Regions from separate parts of the Homo sapiens genome. Here region 2 is linked to region 1. The links come from fine-mapping of genetic effects on gene expression. A gene starts in region 1. The other region holds a variant in brackets. All regions are shown on one strand. Distances are between the middles of the regions. Region 1 holds the start of ARHGAP35 (Rho GTPase activating protein 35). Region 2 overlaps ARHGAP35 (Rho GTPase activating protein 35).

Region 1 (5,367 bases):
CAGCTAGAGGTAAAACTATATATTGAAATAACTTGTTAGCTGGGGGGGAGGGGCGAAGGCGGGGGGGAAGGGAAGGACACTCCTAGGGTTGCTGGCTTAGAGGTGGAAGGGGAGAGAGGGTACTCTATGCAATGGCTCAGAGAAGGAAGGAGGGAAAGTGAGAAAGAGAATAAAGATCTGCGAGCAGCTGCAATCCCCTTTTCCAAAGGACACAAAGCTGCAAAGCCCAGAGATAGGAAGGGAGAGAGCAAACAGCAGAGGAAAGAAAATGGGGCAATGGAAAAAGATCTACCTCCCCCCACACTACTAACCTAGTGGAAGTGGGGGAAATGGGGGAGACACTCCCAGACTCCAGAGAGTAGTAACAATCAACCAACCCCCACCTATTTACCCAGATCTCTCAGGATCCCTGGGGAGAGAACCCTCAGGGTTAGGGCGCAGAGAGAGAATCTGCAGTCTCAGAGCCTGGAGAGCCTAAGGCCCAATCCAGCCCCTTTGCCTCTGCAGCAGAGGGATGGAAAGAAAGATATGCCTGAAAGGGGAAGTGCTCAATGGGGAATGGGTGGGCCACGGGTGGTGAGCTGCGAGGAGCAGGTCTGATAGGAACTAAATGGGAAGAGAAGGAGCCTGGCAGGATACAAGGGGAAGGAAAAAAAAAAAAAAGGTGAGGAAGGAAACAAGTCCAAGAGGAACAGAATTGGGAGAGGGATATCAAAGGGGAGTGATAATCTATCACAGCACTGAGGCAGCTCCAAGAGGAAGGTGGGGGGGAATACATAGGAAAGAATGATTAAGAAGACATCGTAATGTCACAATTGGAGTGAGAACTCCAAAAGAAGACAAGAGGCAGAACAGTGGAGGGTGGGCAAATAAAGCAGAGTGAAGGGTGAGGGCTGAATCAAAATGGTGGGGGGAAGAGACTGTCATGTGGAAAACTTAAAAGACTCGGGAGGGAACAGAGAGGGGACACAGTGACAAGAACCCCAGTGTTAAAGGACCGCTCCAAGAAAGGACGGCAATACAGAAGTTAAAAACCGGTCTAAAAATATGCGGGCAAGTGGACAGCTCCGAAGGAGCCGAGCTGGGGAGGGAAACACTAAATAAAGAGGATGGAGCAGAATTGAAAAAAACGAGAAGAAAGTGTAGGTACAAAATGGATCTAGGGGCAGGTCTGTGAGATGCAGAACAGGAAGGGGATGGGTGACCAGCCCGGGAGGTATCAGAGGTATAGTGAGGTTAAAGGGCATGTCTAAGGGCTAAAACGGGGAGGAGAGGAATTGGAGCAAAGAGGGGACAGGAAGCAGTTTTCAGGCAGAGAACTGAAGGAGAGACAGGCCAAAGAAAGGAGAAGCAAATGAATGCAGTAGCTCAGAGGAGTGCCAAAAAGGAGGTGGGGAAGAGAGGAAACCTCCAAGAGAACACGGGCTGAAACTGAAGGCAGTCTGAGTTAGGGATACATCATTTAAGTGAATAGCAGAAATGGGAGACCTGCAGAGTCAGAGAAGGGGGAGGAGGCTGCTTCCCGGGAAGGCAGAGTCAGAAGCAAGCAGGTGAGGGGAGCGCAGCAAGATCTGAGGTCGGGCAAGGGGCAGAGCTGAGAGGCAGAAAGGTCTGGAAGAGAGGAAAGGGTCTGAATGGTAAACGGGAACAAGAGCTGAGAAGGGGAACAGGCAAGCACGGTGCAGCCAAGTCCGAGGGGATCAGGGGAATGAGCTGGGGCACGGAAGGGTCAGAAAGCCAGCCGAGGGGCATCCCGGGGTGCAGCAGGCTCTGCGAGAGGGCAGACAAGAAATGCGGGTAGTAGGGCCCACGAGGGAACGGGATTCAGTCCAAGGGGAAGACCTGGGGCAGCAGTGCCTGGCCGAACAGGGGTCTCAGATGGATCTCCAAAGGGTTGGAACCGCAGGTCCTAAAGGGACAGCTCCCAGGGTGCAACAGATTCTGAGACAGGAATAATAGCACAGAAGGTAGGTCAAAGAAGGGGCCGAGGACAGATCTGAAGGGTGGTGAGAGCAGAATCGAGAAGAGGGAGAAGCGTCACGGATCTCAAAAGTGGGAGCCACAATTAAGAGATGCAGAATGGTCAATGAGGAGAAGATGGGTCCCAGGAGCACTGCAGAGCCCGGGAGGAGCGAAGGGCATTATGGAGGGGTGGAAGGGGGAAGGGGGGCGCAGAATTGGGAACCGGTTGGCTGAAGTCGGGTAGGCTCCGAGGCAGACACCGAGATCCCAACGGGTCGGGGATGGGGGCGGCGGCGGGGACAGCAGGGCTGGGGCGGGCAGGGGCAGGTCCAAAGGGCAGGAGGGCCCCACGGGCCGGGCCGACGCGCGAAGCGACGGGGACGGCGGGGCCCGGGGGGCTGGGGGGGGGGCCGCTCCTCCCCTCCCCCTCCAGCTCCTCCATTGTTCGCGGGCTCCGGGCCCCGCCGTCCCCGCCTCCCCCTGGACCCCGCAGCGGGGCGGCGCCCGGCCTCGCCGCCCGGGGCCCGTGAGCTCGCGCACTCACCAGCTGGGCGCCCTCAGCGCGGCCCCGGCCTCCAAAATCCCGGCAGCAACGACGGGGGCCCCGGCGCCATGTTCCCCTGCTCCTAGTCCAGCGGCGGCTGAGGCGGCGGCGGCGGCTCCGGCGGCGGGGGGCCGGGCGGACCCTCCCTCGCGGGTTCCCTCCTCCGCCTCCTCCACCTCCTCCTGCCGCCGCGCCGCGGCTCTCCCTCGGGGCGGGGGGCGGGGAGGGGAAGGGGGGAGGGGCGGCAACCAGGGGGAGGGCGGACCAGCCTCGCTCACTCCCTCCCTCCCTCCCTCCCTCGCAATGGCGGCAGCGGCGGCACCTCCTTCCTGCGACGGCCGCTCCCGCGCGCGCGCCCCCTCGCTACTGCGCGTGCGCGGCGCGTGGACCGTTGCAGGGGTATAACGGCCCCTGGGCGCGCGCCGCGAAGGGACAACCAGCGAGGCAGTGGGAAGAGGTCAGAGCGCGTGCGCACCCGAGGGGCTTACTGCCACAGCCGCTGCCTGAGGTTAGGAACGGCCGCGGACGGTGCAGTGCGCGTGCGCCCCCGAAAATGCCGCTATTGCGGCGGCCGCCGTCGCGACTGAGCGCGAGGCGACTTGCAAACGAGCAGAGGGAGCGGGATGGGCGAGCGCGCGTGCGCGGGGGGCTGCCAGCCGGCGCAGCTGCTGGCGCAGGGCGGAGGGAGTGGTCCGCAGGAGCTGCGCGCGCGTCTCAAGCAGCCGATCTACTGCCTCGCGCTGGCTCCTGGAGAAAGCCGAAGGAGAGAGGCATGGCCCGGTTTTGGGGGTGGGGGGCGAAGGGCGCGATCCCGCTCGCGCGGGACCTGACCAGCCAATGGGAAGCAATGGGAGGTGGGTTTGCCGCGCGAGCCGCAGCCGCCGGGATAACGGAGGAGGCCAGAAGGAGCGACGTAACGTGGGGCGGTGGGGCGGGGCTGAGAAGGAGGGAGCGCACCAGAGAGGGAGTTGATTGGAGGATATGAGGAGGCGTGGCCCGCCTCAGCCCAATCCGAGCCCCGCAATTCGTCGTCCCGGAAGAAGAGGCGGGGCTGGAGAGCGCGTGCTCTTTCTCCTGGCTGTGAAGAAAATCTGCAGCCAACGCGCGCGTCCATGCAACTTGTTTTTGGTTCTGTGAACGACTGATCCCCAGGAGAGGGAAGACGGCCTGGTCCTGTGTGCAGCCCAAGCCTGTCACTTAGCATTGTGCAAATGGCTACAAATCGAATGTCAATTAGGGCGCCTGAAGGGAAAAGAGTAGTGATGGGAGAGGGCACCGCTGTAACCCTTGACTCCTCTGAACTGAGGAGGTGTTCCTCTGGGACTCCTCCGGAAGTACAGATCGTGGAAGATGAGCTTCCCGGGCGCCGAGCCAATATTTGTGGAATGCATGAAGAAAGGCTGTTTCCTATTACATTTGGCATTTCTGCCATCAGTCTCTTCATCTATAAAATGGGATAATAATCGTACCTCTCTCGTAGGGCTGCTGTGAAAATTAAATAGATTATATTTTGCAAAGCTCTTGAAATCATGCATTGCATACATAGTAAGCGCTCTGTAAGCGTTGATAAATAAAATTACAGGGGCTTGTTTATTCCATTAATAAAGATTTTTATATTAAAGGATGTTTCCATTGACTTTTTTTTTTTTTTTAATGTAGCACTTTTAGGGCCAGGCGCGGTGGCTCATGCCTGTAATCCCAGCACTTTGGGAGGCCGAGGCGGGCGGATCACTTGCGGTCAGGAGTTCGAGACCAGCCTGGCCAACATGAAACCCCGTCTCTACTAAAAATACAAAAATGAGGTGGGCGTCGTGACGGGCGCCTGTAATCCCAGCTACTCGGGAGGCTGAGGCAGGAGAATCGCTTGAACTCGGGAAGCGGAGGTTGCAGTGAGCAGAGATAGCACTGGACTCCAGCCTGGGCAGCAGAGGGAAACTCCGTCTCAAAAAAAAAAAAAAAAAGGCACTTTTAATGCATTCAGTCTGATTTTTAGATGTTAGTGGCTTGAAACAACAACAACTTTTCTTTAAGCACTGCGGGGCTGCCAAATCGAGTGCGTGGACTGTCATTACAAACCGTGATGTGTAAGGGACTTTTGAGATTACTTGAGGAGACACAGGAAAGACAAGGTGGGGGGCAGTGAATTCCTGATACCTGTATTTCAAATTAATGTCTTTACAACGCCTATGCAGTGTTCCGAGTCTTTTCAATCTTAAATTTGTGAGCTGGCAGCATCTGGAGAACAAGGACGCTTGGGCTCACTCTGGATCCCCCAAACCCCTTGGGAGCCCATCAGCTCTGATTTACCCTTCAACTCTCAGCTTGAAGTCACCTTCTCAGGGTAGTCTCCCAGATTTGGCCTGATCCCTCGTTCTTTAATAATAAAAATGAGTACTTCGTGCCAAGCAACAGTCTTTTTTTATTTTTATTTTTTATTTTGAGGCAGAGTCTGGGATTACCAGCGTGCGCCCCGCTAATTTTTGTTTTTGTTGTTTTCTCAAGACAGAGTCTTGTTCTGTCACCCAGGCTGGAGTGCAGTGGTGTGATCTCGGCTCACTGCAACCTCCACCTCCCGGGTTCAAGTGATTCTTCTGCCTCAGCCTCCTGAGTAGCTGGGACTACAGGCGCCACATCTGGCTAATTTTTGTATTTTTAGTAGGGACAGGGTTTCACCTGTTCGGGCCAGGCTGGTCCCGAAGTCCTGGCCTCAAGCCATCCACCCACCTCAGCCTCCCAAAGTGCTGGGATTACAGGTGTGAGCCACTGAGCCTGGCCGCAACAGTCTTTTTTGTTTGTTTGTTTGTTTGTTTTTTGAGATGGAGTCTCACTCTGGCATCCAAGTTGGAGTGCAATGGCGAGGT
Region 2 (5,367 bases), 100 kb before region 1:
CAGGCTGAAAACACGCTTAGGTGGTAAAAACAATGGGACTGACTGATGAGGTTGACTGGTGTGGGAAGGTAACAAGGGAGAGACCCCCTCCCCATGGAGGACATGCTGTTGACTCAGGTCAGCAGATTCTCTGGGATGAAAACCTTCAAACCCTACCTTCCCGCAAATGGTAACGGTGAGGGCTGACAAGCTTTCTCAGGAGTGAGAAAATCCTTCTTCCAAATGAAATCTTAAACTGAACCTTAAGGCTGAAGGATCCAGAGTCCTGGTGGCCTGACCTTTCCCGTCCCCATGCAGAAGGACTCCCTTACAATTCTAGGGATCTGAGAAAAAAAAAAAAAATCTGAAAAGCCCAGGCCAAGTCCAATTGCTGGAGGCTGACGTTCAAAGGATTTTAGGGCAATATGGCTACGTGGTCAGCACGGCCTCTCACCTCTACACCTGACTCTCATTCAGTTGACTTTCCACACCTAGACTATTCCTCCCATCCTGTTAGAGAATCCAGTGTATCTTTAAGGACAAGCCTCCATCCCAGACTCCAAGCAAGCAAGCTCCCTGACTTCTGCAGCACTAACCCCTGCAGCCTCATGGGCACTGGGCAAACTGACTGTGGAGAGATATTAATTTTCTCTTTGATGTGTGTAGTCATCTCCAATGGGGGCTGGCCTCAGGCTTCCTCAGGATCTTCTTGGCTTCAAAAATGCCTTGTACTTGATAGGCCAGAAATATTATTATAGACTAACTTATTACACTCACTCCATCCCATCAACCCTAGAAAGTAAGACAAACAACTGTAATGACTACACAAGAAAAAAGAGAAGAGGAAAAAAAGCAGAGAGGTGTCATGACTTTGAAATGAAGGACCATACATTACAAAGATGTTCAATTGCATTTTTTGGGGGTGGGGGACAGGGTCTTGCTTTGTTACTCAGGCTGGAGTACAGTGGTGCAACCATGGCTCACCATGGCTTCAACCTCCCACGCTCAAGTGATTCTCCTGCCTCAGTCTCCCAATCAGCCAGGACTACAGGTATGCACCAGCACACCTGATTAATTTTCTAATTTTTTGTAGAGACAGAGTCTCGATATGTTGCTGGGGCTGGTCTTGAATTCCTGGGTTCAAGCAATCCTCCTGCTTCAGCTTCCCAAAGTGTTGGGATTACAGGCATGAGCCACTGCGCCTGGCCTCAATTGCATTTTGTATATAAATAAAATAAAAATCTCAATGGAATGGTTAAAATGCACTAAATAAAATAATACCAAAAATCGTATAAATATTTTGCAAAGAAAGAAAAAAATACCAAAAATATCTTTAAAAGATCCAATAGAAAATATCACATATGGCAAACTGGAAGGTTGCAAAGTAGACCCCAGGGGCTGCTGGATGTACAAGTGAAGCTAGGTATTGAGGCTGGGGAGACTGAGGGTTTCCAACTAATACTTCCTTTATTGACTTGGTTTTGACCAGAGAAGACTAAGAGTCCTTCTAGGGGGCAATATGAACTATCTTATTCATATTTTAGCCTCCAGCATCTAATGGAACTGACACATAACAGGTGTTCAATTATTCTTTTAGGATTGTAAAAACTAAACATTGTGAGGCTAAAGAATATTCTGGCAAAGACAGCAATTATGGGAATGAAACATGGAGTTGAAAAAGATTAATCCAGGCCGAGTGCAGCAGTTCACGCCTGTAATCCCAGCACTTTGGGAGGCTGAGGCAGGAGAGTCACTTGAGCGCAGGAGTTGGAGATCAGCCTGGGCAACATGGCGAAACCCCATCTCTACAAAAAATACAAGAATTAGCTGAGCATGGTGGTGTGCACCTGAAGTTCCAGCTACTTGGGAGGCTGAGGTGGGAGGATTACTTGAGCCTGGGAGATCGAGGCTGCAATGAGCCATGACTGTGCCACGGCACACCAGCCTAGGTGACAAAGTGAGACCCTGTCTCAAAACAAACAAACAAACAAACAAACAAACAAA[CAAAA/A]AACCCAAGAAAAAGACCCAGAGAAAAAGTTGAATTTTACCAGCTATTAAAGCACTTTTGAGAGTAAAAATTTAGGAAACATGATTTTGGTATAAAAACAAGAAAGTAAAATCAGTAAAACAAAAGAAATCTTAGAAAAGACTCTTTTTTTTTGAGATGAAGTCTCGCTCTTGTCCTCCAGGCTGGAGTGCAATGGCGCAATCTCGGCTCACTGCAACCTCTGCCTCCTGGGTTCCAGCGATTCTCCTGCTTCAGCCTCCTGAGTAGCTGGGATTACAGGCACCTGTCACCACGCCCGGCTAATTTTTGTATTTTTAGTAGAGACGGGGTTTCACCATGTTGGCCAGGCTGGTCTCAAACTCCTGACCTCAGGTGATCCGCCCGCCTCGGCCTCCCAAAGCGCTGGGATTACAGGCGTGAGCCACCGCGCCTGGCCTAAAAAGACTCAATTTTAAGAACTGAATATTTGATAAAGTAATTGTCACAAAATATAGGGGAAGGCTATCAAAAGGTAGTACTATGATAACTGAATAAACATATGAAGGGAAAGAAATCACTTTAGATCCATGCTCTGTATTTGGACAGGCTACCAAAGACCTACCAGGACTGTTCATTTCTGCAAGTTTTTAAGACTTTTATTCTCTCTCTGGGTCCATGTTGGCTTGTGCCCATTTCTTTTTTATCAAAGGATTCACATATTGACCTTATTACCCTGGTAGAACCCCCTTCCATAAGCTCCAATGAGCCACACCAGCCCTTCTGCTGAACTGAAACTGCCCTATCAAGCAAATATTATCCCACATTCAGAGGGTCAGCTGAAACCAGTTGAAAGTTGAGAATTATTTTTGTCAGTTTTTCAATGGGAGATTGGCTTATGGAGTAAAAGTAGACTTAAAGAATGATGCCACTGGCTGCGCATGCTGGCTCACACCTGTAATCCCACCACTTTAGGAGGCTGATGTGGGAGGATCACTTGAGCTCAGGAGTTCAAGACCAGCTTGGGCAACATGGTGAGACCCCATCTCTACGAAACATATTTTAAAAAGTTGCCAAGCTTGGTGGTGCATGCCTGTGGTCCCAGCTACTCGGGAGGATCACTTGAGCCCAAGCAGTCAAGGCTGCAGTGAGCCATGATCACGCCACTGCAGCGCTCCAGCCTGGGTGATAGAGCAAGATCCTGTCTCAAAAAGAAAAGAAAAGAAAAAAAAAAGTCACCTGCTCAGGTTCACAAAATAAATTACAAATTTAAATTTAAATTTATAATAATCTTGTCTGGGCATATAATAATGACTCATATAATAATGAGTCCGGTGGCTCATGCCTGTAATCCCAGCACTTCAGGAGGCTGAGGCGGGTGGATCACCTGAGGTCAGGAGTTCAAGACCAGCTTGGCCAACATGGTGAAACCCCGTCTCTACTAAAAATATAAAAATTAGCTGGGGGTAGTAGCACTCACCTGTAATCCCAGCTACTCGGGAGGCTGAGGCAGGAGAATTGCTTGAACCTGGGAGGCGGACATTGCAGTGAGCCGAGATTGCGCCACTGCACTCCAGCCTGGGTGACAGAGCAAGATTCCATCTCAAAAAATAAAAAAATTAAAAATAAATAAATAAAATAATCTCATCTCTGATGATACAGCATGGCATCTGCTGGCATTTGTGAAGCAGTATCACAGCAATAAACCATTATTAAAGCATACTACGTGGAGGACACCGATTAAGTCCCATGGGAGATAGAAAAATTAACAGCACTGTCGTGTCCTCTTTCGAGGTGACAGGGAGACAAGATAAAGGTGAAAAGTTAGATCACACTTAGATATAATAAAAGATAAGCTAAAAGTTAGGACCAGATGACTGCTAAACAGATGACACAGACAACTGGCATGGATGTCCACAGGAGGGACGGCAAAGTCAGCTCCAACAAGGATGGTCATCAGAGAAGAGGCACGCTTTCAGATGGGGCTTGGAAAATAGATGGGATTTGCTGAGGCCAGTGTGGAGGAGTGAAGGCACAGAGGAAGGGAAGCAAAAGAGAAGAAAGTGATGAAAGTGAGGAGGGGCTTGAACTGAGGTCCCACATGGGAATTTTCTGCTGAGAGAGTGCCCACTTTTAAGGCACCCCACGCAGATGTGCTACCAGAACAAGCAGTCAACAGTGTGTGCGTGCCAGCAAGCACTCAGAACACAGCATAATTTCCAATCAAAGACAACAGTTTTTGACCACAGGAAGTGCTCAAAATCATACTATGCCCTGAGTCACATAAGGTTTCCAGATAGAACCCCCACAGAAAAGTAAAGGAATCCTGGACGCTGAGAATCTCCCATCAGGGTAGCACACCATGCAAACAATTCCTTGGAGTTCACCACTCACCACCCTCCCAAAGCAGGCCCAGGAAGAATGAAACAGAAATCTGCTTTATTTTTATTCTGAGCAAATAATTTTACTAAAAAAGATAAAATTTTCTGAAATAGGCTAGCCTGAAAAGGAGTAGGAAGCAGCAGCAAAACGGGAAGGATGAGGATGCAGTGAGAAAAAGGACTAAGAATGAGAGGTTGAGGCCGGGCGCAGTGGCTCATGCCTGCGATCCCAGCACTTTGGCCAAGTGCGGGCGGATCACCTGAGGTCAGGAGTTCGAGACCAGCCTGGCCAACATGGTAAAACCTCATCTCTACTAAAAATACAAAAATTAGCTGGGTGTGGTGGTGCATGCCTGTAATCCCATCTACGTGGGAGGCTGAGGCAGGAGGCAGGAGAATCACTGGAACCTGGGAGGTGGAGGTTGCAATGAGCCAAGATCGCACCACTGCACTCCAGCCTGGGCGACAAAGCGAGACTCCATTTCAAAAACAAAAACAAAAGAATGAGAGGTTGGCCAGAGTAACAGAGAACCGAACTTTTCTCCATCAGAAACTTCCCCACCCTTGTCTACTGCCTGGGTGTGAGGCCTTGTGCTAGAATTTCTGCCCTAAACACAAGAGCATAAGCTATAAAACCAGAAATTCCATTTGACACATGAGCTGGCTCTGAGACTCTCCATTATTCTTCAGGGGCCTCAAGGTGAGAGACATTGTCACACATTCACGGCCTTTCCAAGTGCCAACAACATCACTAGCCAGTCTTGGCAAGGCAGGCCAGGGCTCTGGCTTCTTGCACAGGCTCTCAGAAACCCTGAGCTGCTCATATGGCAAGACAGTGGGGAATCTCTTCAACTCCTGGGTTCTTATCTTTAAAATGGAAGAGTTGGGACTAGAGGCTTTTTTAAAAAACAAACTCTTATTGAAAGATAATACACATTCAGAAGTTTACAGAGAAGTGTACGGTGATGGATTTTCACACAATGACCACACTTGTGTAAACAGCACCCACAGATCAAGACACAA

Evidence for each region. PIP is the estimated chance that this variant, and not a neighbour inherited with it, causes the effect.
Region 2: its variant is the best candidate, but not a certain one, in a credible set for the expression of ARHGAP35 in whole blood (INTERVAL, PIP 0.80).

Annotation. Positions count from the first base shown.
Region 1 is chr19:46,858,349-46,863,715 of GRCh38, reverse strand. It overlaps ARHGAP35 (Rho GTPase activating protein 35), which reads right to left and starts at 2,719. Exons shown (of 7, transcript NM_004491.5): 1 at 2,507-2,719. LOC124904791 (translation initiation factor IF-2-like) reads left to right here. Exons shown (of 4, transcript XM_047439803.1): 2 at 508-594; 3 at 2,396-2,659; 4 at 2,820-4,127. The coding sequence ends at 3,491. RefSeq lists a silencer at 2,411-2,950.
Region 2 is chr19:46,962,087-46,967,453 of GRCh38, reverse strand. The region is part of intron 3 of ARHGAP35 (Rho GTPase activating protein 35); the gene reads right to left. Among named protein-coding and RNA genes, the nearest start is that of NPAS1, 55 kb to the left of the region's middle. RefSeq lists an enhancer at 3,343-4,542. The variant CAAAA/A (reference allele first, on the strand shown) is at 1,984.